Regions from separate parts of the Homo sapiens genome. Here region 2 is linked to region 1. The links come from fine-mapping of genetic effects on gene expression. A gene starts in region 1. The other region holds a variant in brackets. All regions are shown on one strand. Distances are from middle to middle. Region 1 holds the start of DUSP4 (dual specificity phosphatase 4). Region 2 has its middle 71 kb from the start of LINC02948.

What was found. PIP is the estimated chance that this variant, and not a neighbour inherited with it, causes the effect.
Region 2: its variant is the best candidate, but not a certain one, in a credible set for the expression of DUSP4 in whole blood (TOPMed, PIP 0.81).

Annotation. Positions count from the first base shown.
Region 1 is chr8:29,347,994-29,353,360 of GRCh38, reverse strand. It overlaps DUSP4 (dual specificity phosphatase 4), which reads left to right and starts at 2,677. Exons shown (of 4, transcript NM_001394.7): 1 at 2,677-3,515. The coding sequence starts at 3,083. LOC124901924 (a long non-coding RNA gene) reads right to left here and starts at 2,387. Exons shown (of 2, transcript XR_007060876.1): 1 at 1,827-2,387. RefSeq lists enhancers at 1,760-1,869, 1,910-1,979, 2,678-3,177, 3,500-3,649, 3,178-3,679 and silencers at 2,170-2,309, 2,500-2,819, 4,390-4,559.
Region 2 is chr8:29,488,180-29,493,546 of GRCh38, reverse strand. No RefSeq gene overlaps it. Among named protein-coding and RNA genes, the nearest start is that of LINC02948, 71 kb to the left of the region's middle. RefSeq lists enhancers at 2,523-3,028, 3,284-3,343, 5,130-5,367. The variant G/A (reference allele first, on the strand shown) is at 2,097.

The DNA.
Region 1 (5,367 bases):
TTCGCTTTCGCAATTCAAGTGGCTCTCGGCTTAAACACATTAAGTCCCAAGCTGTGACTCCCTTCCAGTGAACAGCCGCGTAGGCGCGGGCACGCACACGTGGACACACACACTCACACGCGCCCTCCCACACCCCTTTCCGTGTGAATCGCCTGCGGGATTTAGGGCTTCTCCACCAGCGATTACTGTCAGGTGCAGAAAGCAAGCCTCTTTGTTCTATGGGCATTTTCCTCCCCCTGGATTTGACTGTTATTTACTGGCCACGTGAGCGCCAGGCGCGGGTCCGGCGGGGAAGGCGACCCCAGAACAGGGTAGACAAAAGCTGGCCCAGAGCGCGACCCGTGCGCCCCAGGGACGTCTCCCCAGCTCCTGCGACACGCGTGAAATTGGCCCGGACCTGCCTCCTGAGAGGCTTTTCCCAGAAATGTCTTGTTAAAGCCTTTGTAAAGGAATCAGTGTTTACTTGCGCCGGGAGAGCTCCGGCCCTGGGTCCTGGCAGGCGGCGGATTTCTGAGCTGCTGGAGAGCAACCCGGGAAAGCAAAATCAGCCTTGGACTGTCGGGGCCCCTGGGGCTCCTTGCTCCTTATCGAAAGCGAGTTATTAGATAGACCCCCACAGTCCCATTCAGCAGAATGGGAAACTGGACTCAGACACCTTTTGCCCTCCCCACAGGGAGGCCACGCCGTGCGGCTTTGACCACTGATCTCCCACCCGGAGTGCCCGACGCCCAGGGTCCTGCCACCGGGCAGCCTCGGTCAGTCCACAGTTGTGGCTCCTTCCAGGGCCTGGACTAGGGTGAGCACAAGCCTTGAGCGCAACATTTAAGAAGGGCGCCGAAAAGTCAGTAATCAAAAGAAATATCTTGATGCAATGCCTCTTTAAAAGAAAAAAAAATGCAAAAAATCCATGATGAATAAAATACTAAATTTTAAAAAGAGAAAGGATCCGTGCAGTGCCATCGTAAGCCATTTTGGAGCCCGGAGCAAAAGGAAATATCACCTTGCCCAAGCGGTGCCCCTACAGCTCATCCGAGTAGGGCCCGGGGGTCGAGGCATTCGGGGCCCAGTGGGGGACGAGGCCAGTCGAAGGTCTCGGAAGTGGAGGCTCCGCCGAGCTCCGGTCGGGGAGTGCAGGGATGGCCCCCGGGACCGGAGGTGAGAGCTCGGGAAAGCCGCTCCGCCCGGAACAAAGGCATGGGGAGAGGGTGAGCTTGGGCGGGAGAGACCCGGCGGGTACCGGTGCCCTCGCTGCCTGGGTCGGGCTTCCACGCGCGCCCCGGAATGGAATACGCTACTCTGCAGCCTCCGAAACTGCGAGCGAGTCCTGTAACTCCCTTGCTCTGTGATTAATTCTCACTAACAAGACTTGGCAAGATGTCGGGCGAATGATTTTTGGCTTCTGCACGGTCCCCACCGCGTGCGTGCACAAACCCCCAGCCAAAAGCCGCCTCTGGGAAATTAAATGCAAAAGAGAAATGGGGATGGGGAGGGCTGCTACGTGACCAGGAAAAAGGGATGCCCAGAAACATGAATCGGACCCAGAGCTGCTGAAGTCCTTTCAAAAGGTCATTCTTTGCGGGTACATTTTCCAGGGTCCAGCTCCGCAACAAATGTGGACCCTGTCATTTCCTGAAAGGATAATTCACAACTATGCAAGATAGGGTGAAGACGTTTCCCAAACCCGAAAACCTTGTTTTTCCCCCGACCAGGGTTAAATAAACATCTTTTAGGAAGCGTGGACAGGAGCGCAGCCTGCTCTCCTCCCTCGGAACACCATTCCGGCAATTAATGCCTCCCTTTGGGTAGTAAAGCAACAAACCCCACACCTCACTCCGATCCTGGGCTTCGGGCGGGAGGACTTTCTCTTTCATCTTCCAAGCAGGGGGTTGCCCACGTTCTTGGGGAAGCTATAAAACTGATTTAATGGCTTTAGATGAAAATCGATCACGCTAATGCATACGCTAACGTCTCAGGAATCGCATATTCAGAAAGGACTGGCCGGGCCGAAAGCGCACGGGGAGTCTGGGGCTAGGAGGTGTCAGGCCCCGCTGGGTGGGCAGCAGCGCTCCGGTCCCCTCTCCACTTGGGTAACCGGGAAAAACCTACGGGGCTGTCACGCGGGGAAGCGCGAAGGTGCCAAGGGATGAAAGCTCAAACCCGAGCCCTGGCCTCCTCAGCCGGCTATTTCCTTTGGCGCCGCCCGCCTAGCGGCGGGGTGCAGCGGCGGCACAGGTGCCGGTGTCGGGCTGGAGGCGCGGCGCAGGCTGGGCCCGCGGGTAGACGGCGAAAGGCGCCGCGCGCTCCATTCACAAAGTCCGGGCGCTGCCCGCCGCTGGCGGCGGGTCGGAGGCCGCCTCCCTCTTCCTCTCGGCCTCGGTTTTATGAATGGGCCTGATGGCGAGCACCCGGCGCCCTGTTTACTCCGCTCTTTGTGACGTCGAGTTCCCGTGACCGGGAGCCAGCGGCCGCGCTCCATTCAAGCTCCGGGGAGGGGGTGGGAGGAGGGGCCCGGAGGGGGCGGGGAGTCAGCGCGGGGGGCGGGGGACAGCGCGGGGGGCGGGGGACGGCGCGGGGCCCGGAATGGAACGGGGCGGGGCCTGGCGGGGTAGTACCTAGCGCCCCCTCCCCCGGGAGCGCGGAGGAGCATTAATAAACCTCTAAGCCGAGGAGAAAACTCTGGCTGGGGCAGTGCGCTGAGCGCCGGAGGAGCGTAGGCAGGGCAGCGCTGGCGCCAGTGGCGACAGGAGCCGCGCGACCGGCAAAAATACACGGGAGGCCGTCGCCGAAAAGAGTCCGCGGTCCTCTCTCGTAAACACACTCTCCTCCACCGGCGCCTCCCCCTCCGCTCTGCGCGCCGCCCGGCTGGGCGCCCGAGGCCGCTCCGACTGCTATGTGACCGCGAGGCTGCGGGAGGAAGGGGACAGGGAAGAAGAGGCTCTCCCGCGGGAGCCCTTGAGGACCAAGTTTGCGGCCACTTCTGCAGGCGTCCCTTCTTAGCTCTCGCCCGCCCCTTTCTGCAGCCTAGGCGGCCCGGGTTCTCTTCTCTTCCTCGCGCGCCCAGCCGCCTCGGTTCCCGGCGACCATGGTGACGATGGAGGAGCTGCGGGAGATGGACTGCAGTGTGCTCAAAAGGCTGATGAACCGGGACGAGAATGGCGGCGGCGCGGGCGGCAGCGGCAGCCACGGCACCCTGGGGCTGCCGAGCGGCGGCAAGTGCCTGCTGCTGGACTGCAGACCGTTCCTGGCGCACAGCGCGGGCTACATCCTAGGTTCGGTCAACGTGCGCTGTAACACCATCGTGCGGCGGCGGGCTAAGGGCTCCGTGAGCCTGGAGCAGATCCTGCCCGCCGAGGAGGAGGTACGCGCCCGCTTGCGCTCCGGCCTCTACTCGGCGGTCATCGTCTACGACGAGCGCAGCCCGCGCGCCGAGAGCCTCCGCGAGGACAGCACCGTGTCGCTGGTGGTGCAGGCGCTGCGCCGCAACGCCGAGCGCACCGACATCTGCCTGCTCAAAGGTAAACGAGGGCTCCGGGCGCTAGCTGGAGTCGGGGAGATGGAGGGGGTCTTGGCGGCCTGCGCCTTATTGGCACGGGAAGGAGTCCCCGGCGTGATTCGTGGTTGCGGGGATCCCCGCGCGCCCCTTTGTGTGTGTTGGTGTGTAGGGGTTTGCAAGGTTTCTGTGCAAGTGCGAGGTTCAAGTCCTCAGGGAAAGTGCGGACGGGTTTCTCCGGTCACCTGCAATTCCGCACCGTCCTAGCGAGGCCCCGTTTATTGACATTAACGGTCCTAGCCTCGAGGATGAAGCGACTCCTCTGCGCGGTCCATCTTGAGTCCCGGGAACAGTTTCCAAGTACCACGGGGCGCGTGGGGACAAGATAGGCCTGTTGGTTTGGCGTGCTGGGGCCCTACACTGAGCCGGACCGGGAGAATCCCAGAGGTGGAGAAAAGGTGAAGAGGGGTGGGCGCCGAGGTACAATTGGCCTTGCCAGTTTCACTGAAAACAAGACCCTGGCAAATGCAGAAAGGGAGATTGGGTTGCACACACTGTGTAGAGCGATCTGTATCTGCGTTCCCGCTGCCCAACTCCAAGCTCAGCTTGGAAGGTGGCCAATCCCCGTCCCGGGCTAGATCCAGGCTCTGGGAGCGGGAGGCTGAAGGACTGGGTATCTGGGGGACGCCGGGCGGAACCGGTCCTCTAGCGCCTGCAAATCCGGGCAGCGGAGAATGATCACCTTTTGTTCAGCCCGGATTTTCGACTATCTGATGGCGGCGCGTGCCGGATTTTAGCGAGCCCTGGCGAAACTCTCGGCGGCGAGACTGTCTTGTCACATTTGGTAGTCGGAAATCCTGGAAAAATCGCGTGCTGTCCGAGTCCCTGGAGGGACCTGGCGCCCGCCACACCTGCAGGGCAGGGTGGGTCCGCGGCCCTCGGGCTAGGGAGCGGGCAGGGCGCGTGGGGTCCGGGCGCCCCCCGCCGCGCTGCGCCTCCGCCTCCCGCCGCCGCATTCCGCGCATTCTTCCGCGCGGGTAGGGTCTGCGCTTCCGAGCCCGGTAGGCAGTTCAGACCCCCCCACACCCATCAAAGAGCCGCTCCTCCCCCCCGCAGGCGCCTTCGCCGCCTCCCTCCCTTCCTTTCCTTTCCGCTCCTCTTCCGACCTGTCCACCCGGGAGGAAGGGAGCTGGAAAGGGGGCGGAAACCTCTCCCCTCCAAAAAGCACAACAAAACTGTTCAGTGCGGAGGAGCCGGGTTCGCCCCTGCCGGACAGCGGGGGGCTTTGTTCCCCGCAGTTGTTTCCTGCCCATTTGACCTGTCAGCTGCTGGGGAAACGCTGCTGTTGACCTTTGGTTGAACTGCTAAGGCGATTTTGCTGATTTTTCTTTCTTTTTCCGCGAGGGCTGTCTTTTGCTCCTCCAAATGAGCCCAGTCCCCCTCCCTTCTCCCCAAAGCGCTCCAAGAGAAAGTGCCAGGAAGGGGCTTGTCCCGGAAGGCCTGGCGGCTGAGCGGGGCCAGGTCCTGGTTAGGCCACCAGGGTGGGCGTCCGCGCCATTGTTTGAGCTTGTCGGCGCTGGTGGGAGAGATGAGGGCAATTCCTCTGGGACGCAAGTCCCCTCGAATGGCCGGGGCTGGCCGGGATGTTCCCCGCACGGCGCTGCCCTCGAGTCCCCCCGATGGAGAGCGCGGGCGCGCCTTCCTTCGCTGGCGTCCAAACCCGGGACCAGCTAGAACACAGCAGGGCTGGGACTGGGTTCCAGCCCCACGTGGAGTCTGGATTTGTTTTGTTGTGTTTTGCTTTCCTTCCTGGAAGAAATCCCGAGGGGACCGCCCTAGAGCGGCAGCTCCAGGACCTCGGCCCTTGGGCTTCCGGG
Region 2 (5,367 bases), 140 kb before region 1:
GAGCCATGCCATGCCTCTCTCCTTTCTAAGGTTGTGGCCATTCTTGGTGTTCCTTTGTTGGTAGAGAGATTACTCCAATCTCTGCCGCTTTCTTTATATGCCATCCTCCTCTCTTCTTCTTGTAAGAAGAACAGGTTTTCTTACAAGTCTCTGGATGTAGAGCCCACCCGAATCCAGATGACGTCATATTAACTAATTATATCTGCAAAGACCCTGTTTCCAAATGTCACATTCAGGGTTCTGGGTGGGCATGAATTTTGAGAAACACTATTCCATCCAGTACAGATGTTATTATCCACAGGCAAATGGAAAGGCAGGCTTGTACACATGAGAAAGCCAGAGAGAAAGACGCAGGAGGAGAGAAGAGCCAGGAGTGGAGGAGGCAGGCCAGTGGGAAGGAGGTGGGAGGGTCAATTCCAGGTGTCAACTTGACTGGATTGAGGGATGCCTAGATGGCTGGAGAAGCATCGTTTCTGGGTGTCTGTGAGGATATTTCCAGATAAGACTGGCATGTGGGTCAGTGAACAGAGAGAGGAAGGCTAGCCCTCAGTGTGGGTGGGTGCCGTCCAATCTGCTGGGGGCCTAGTTGGGACAAACAGGAGAAAGAAGGGGATGATTTATTCTTTCCATCCCTCTCTCTCACTCTCTCTCCCCTTTCCCCTCCAGAGCAAGATGCTTTTCTCCTCCTGCCCTTGGACATTGGACTTCAGGTTCTATAGCTGTCAGACTATGAGGCTTGTTCCACCAGCCTCCCAGGGCTTCTTGGGTCTTTGGCCTTGGACTGGGGGCTACATGGTCCACCTCCCTGGTTCTGAGGCTTTGAATTTGGACTGAGCCACACTACTAGCTTCTCTGGTTCTCCAGCTTGCAGATGGCCTAGCATGGGACTCCTCCATCTCTGTGATAATTTAAGCCAATTCCCTCATAAATTCCCTCTAATACATCCTATTGATTGTCTCTCTGGAGAACCCTGACTATTATAGGAGGCAAAACAGAACTCAGAGACATGTCCTGAGAACAGGAGACAACGGCATAGAAGCCAAAGAAGTGTGGGGTTTCCAAAGGGAAGAAGTGGTAAATGTTGCAGAAAAGCTAAGGAACAAAAACCAAGCAACCCAAACCAATTTTCCCATTGGGTTTGGCAATTAAAAGCTCGTGACTGACCTTCACTGCATGGTTTCAGTGGAGCGATGGGGCCGAGGTCTGATGGCCATGGGTTGCAGAAGAGAAGGGTGGCAAGGGGGTGGCAAGAGCAAAGACTGCTCTGAGAAATTTGTTTTGTGATGAGGGGCAAGGAAGGTAGACTCTAGAAGGTGTGCCAGGCAGGGGGAGACTCCTTATATATTTACTGTTTGGAAAATGAGAGACACTTAACCATAATAATATGCTGAAATAAAAGAGACCAGAGTAAAATATAGATTTTATATGTAAATGAAGGGGAAATTGATGAAACAGGAAACCTGAAAGGATAAGAATTAGGGCAGTTTGGGCAACAAGGCTTAGATAAAAAGGAGAGGCATTATGGTATAATAATATATTCAGGTTTTGTCCCCAATGCCTGGTACAGAGCCCCTAAAATCCTTGGGATTTCCTGAGTGATAGGAGTGTCTTTTGTTATTAATAATAAGTCCCTTTTGATCATTCCTGAGTTTATGCCAATGAGGTGACTTAGATAGGGGACCGAGATAGCTACAGGATGGGGATAGTCCTCAGAAAGACCAAACGATTAGAGGGCTAAAACTTTCAGGCCAGGCGCAATGGCTCATGCCTGTAATCCTAGCACTTTGGGAGGCCGAGGCAGGTGGATTACCTGAAGTCAGGAGTTCAAGATCAGCATGGCCAACATGGTGAAACCCCGTCTCTACAGAAATTAGCTGGGCATAGTAGTGGATACCTGTAATCCCAGCTACTTGGGAGACTGAGGCAGAAGAATCTCTTGGACCTGGGAGGCGAAGGTTGTGGTGAGCCGAGATCACACCATTGCACTCCAGCCTGGGCGACAGAGAGAGACTCTGTCTAAAAAACAAAACAAAACAAAACAAAACAAAACTTTCAGCCCCACCCACTGACATCTGGGAAATGGCATCAGGTCCTGG[G/A]GGTTAAGCTCTATAAAAACTACTGAAGGACAAGACATGGTGGGCTCCAGATGGCTGAAACTATGCAGGTGCTGGGAGGGTGGTGTGCCCAGAGACAGAGTGGAAGCTCCATGTCCTGCATCCCTAATGCCTTACTCTGTACATCTTTTCCATCTGCTCTTCCTGAGTAAACAGTAGACCTAAGTTCTGAGTGCCTGAGTTCTACTCATCATTCTAGCAAATTATCAAACCCAAGGAGGAGATCAGGAACCCTAACTTATAGCTGGTCACTCAGCATCCTGAGTCCCTGGGAGTACAGGCCTGGACTCCTGATTGGTGTCTGAAGTGGGGGGTGCAGTCTTGTGAGACTGAGCCCTGAACTCATGGGATCTGATGCTAACTCCAGGTAGATAGTATCAGAATTTAATGAAATTGTAGGACTCCTAGCTGGTATTCAGAAAATTGGAGACTTGCTTGGGGTGGAAAAAAAAAAAAAACCAACCCACACATCTATTAGAAGTGTTGTGTGAGGGTAAAGAGCAACTGTGTTGTTCTCTAGGCAGAGAATTCCTGGAGACAAAAACGAATTCCTGGAGGGAAGGATAAGCACAGTTGAAGAGTGAGAGGACTTGCTGGTGTTTAACTTGACGGCCCCATTCGTACTGATAAGAACAATGTCAGCACTGTTATTCATATTTGCTGTGATGGAGGGGCCAGATCAAGTGCTGAGGCTGACAAGAGGAAGCCAGCTGAGCTTCTGTGCAGAACTGCAGAGGCCCTGCTGTGGTTGGAGACCACAGATTTGCAGTCACACCCACCTGCCTTTCCTCCAACAGGGCTGCTGTTAGAAGGAATTGTTGCAAGGTCCAGCATTTGCACCCCCAAACCGCCACACAAGTACAGGCTGGTTAATGTGTTATTTTAGCAGGAGCTCGTGAGAGACAGACCTCAGAGTGTCTGCTAAGATAAATGAGTGGTCTAGTCACAATGGTGCACAGAAGTTCATGCTTCCTCACACCCACTCTGTACTGAACACATAAAAATGAGAGATAGAATATCAGAAGAGGAACCCACTAAGACACAGGTGGTCTCAGAAACAAGCTAAAGATCTCCAAAAGCCAGATGCAGATCCAAACCAAAGCAGTGTGTGGAACTGAAGCCTTCAGCCTGCAGGGTTCTGGGGCCAGAATCAGGCTGCTGAGAGGTCAGCTGCTTGAATAACAGGGACTCAACCTGTTCCTGCTTGAGGCTGAGAGGGAATCAGGCCTGACGCCACTCAAGAGGCAGCTGAAAAAAATGGCACCTGCCCAATGCCTGGGACTGTTTTAGGGAAAACAGAGGGAAAGATTCAGCCTCAGTTCCAGGACCTGTGTCCGCCACCTGCTGACCGGGACATTGGACCTGCCACATCCCCAAATCCCAGGGTGTAGAGAAAAGTCCCACCCAAATGACTATAGATGGGGTCCTGGTCCTAAGTTGAGGCCACTCAATCTTGCTGAACAGAGATGAAGACAGTAGCAGATGGGAGGCCATGGCATGTTTGAGCAATAGCAAGGGGGCCAGAGTGGGGAAGGCAGAGAAAATTCAGGGCAGTGTTAGGAGAGGAGGTGGAGGAGGAGCTGAGGATACATCATGCTGGCCCCTGAAGACAGCAGTGCTTGGGATTGGGATCCCAATGCAAAGAACAGCAGAATTTTTTTTTTAAGGAGGAAAGCACATCTGGACTAGAGAACTGTGAAGTGAATGCAATGGTTTGAAGTTGTTTTCTTTGGGCCCTCCAAGTTGAAATTTAATTCACAATGTTGCAGGTGGGGTCTGGTGGGAGGTATTTGGATTGTGGGGGTAGATTCTTCATGAATGGCTTGGTTCCATTCTCGCTGGAGGGAGCAAGTGAATTCTCACCCTTAGTTTCCATGAAAACTAAACATGGTGGTTGAACAGAGCCTGGCAACTCTTCCTTCCATTCTCTTGCTTCCTCTCTGATCTTGTGATCTTTGCACACTAGCTACTCTTCACCCTCTGCCATGAATGGAAGCAACCTGAGGCCCTCATCAGACATAGATCCTGGCGCCATGCTTCTTGTACAGCCTGCAGAACCGTGAGCCAAATAAACCTCTTTTCTTTATAAATTGTCAAGCCTAGGATATTCCTTTAGAGCAACACAAATGGACTAAGACTGTTAATATAGGAAAACTATTAAGCCAGTTTATCCAGGAATCCATTTTGAAAATGGACAATGGAGAAAAAATTTCTACTAAATATTAAAACATAAAGCCACAGTAAACAAAATAATGTCATATTAAAACATTATTAGGCCAGGCACGTTGGCTCACGCCTGTAATTCCAGCTCGTTGAGAGGCTGAAGTGGGTGGATCACCTGAGGTCAGGAGTTTCAGACCAGCCTGGCCAACCTGGTGAAACCCCATCTCTACTAAACATACAAAAATTAGTCCAGTGTGGTGGCAGTTGCCTGTAATCCCAGCTACTCGGGAGGCTGAGGCAGGAGAATTGCTTGAACCCAGGAAGCAGTGGTTGCAGTGAGCCAAGATTATGCCATTGCACTCTAGCCTGGATGACAAGAGTGAGACTCCATCTCAAAAAAACACAAAAAACAAAAAATATTATTAAGCAGACAGTTCAAGGTAACAGGCCTAAAATTCCAGAAATAGATGTAAATGTATTTAGTATAGGACAAAGTGGCATTTCAAATCTGGGGTAAAAATATATATTTGCAATACCCCAAACAATCACTGGTATAGTATTAAAAGCAAATCTGATTATGTCACACTTTTCTTAAAGTGGTTTACAATTGCTTTTGGGGTAAAACCCAAAGTTCTTGGCCTATAATATGAGGCTTCCCATCATCAAGAGCCTAACTACATTTATAACTTCTTCTCCTATACATTATCTAGCCACGAAAAGTTATAAACCACACAATACAAGACCTTCAATAAAACTATGCACATATTTTTTTCTTGATAAAACACTTCTGTACCGCTTAAGAAGTAGATAAAGAATTACTTAGAAAAATAGTCTTATTATCTGACAAAGGATAGATAGAGGCTCCTTTTACTAAAACATAAAGAAGTACCAACATTCCAAAGAATAACAGGCAAAAAAAAAGATCAATAGTTTACAAAAAAGGAAATCCAAGTGGCTCTTAAGTACATAAAATGACGTTCAAAAGAAATGAAAACACGTTGAGGTGACATGTTTCATCCACCAGATTAGCCAAGATCAAAGGATTGAATGACATGCCATATTGGTGAGCTTGCCGGGCATTTGCCCATTT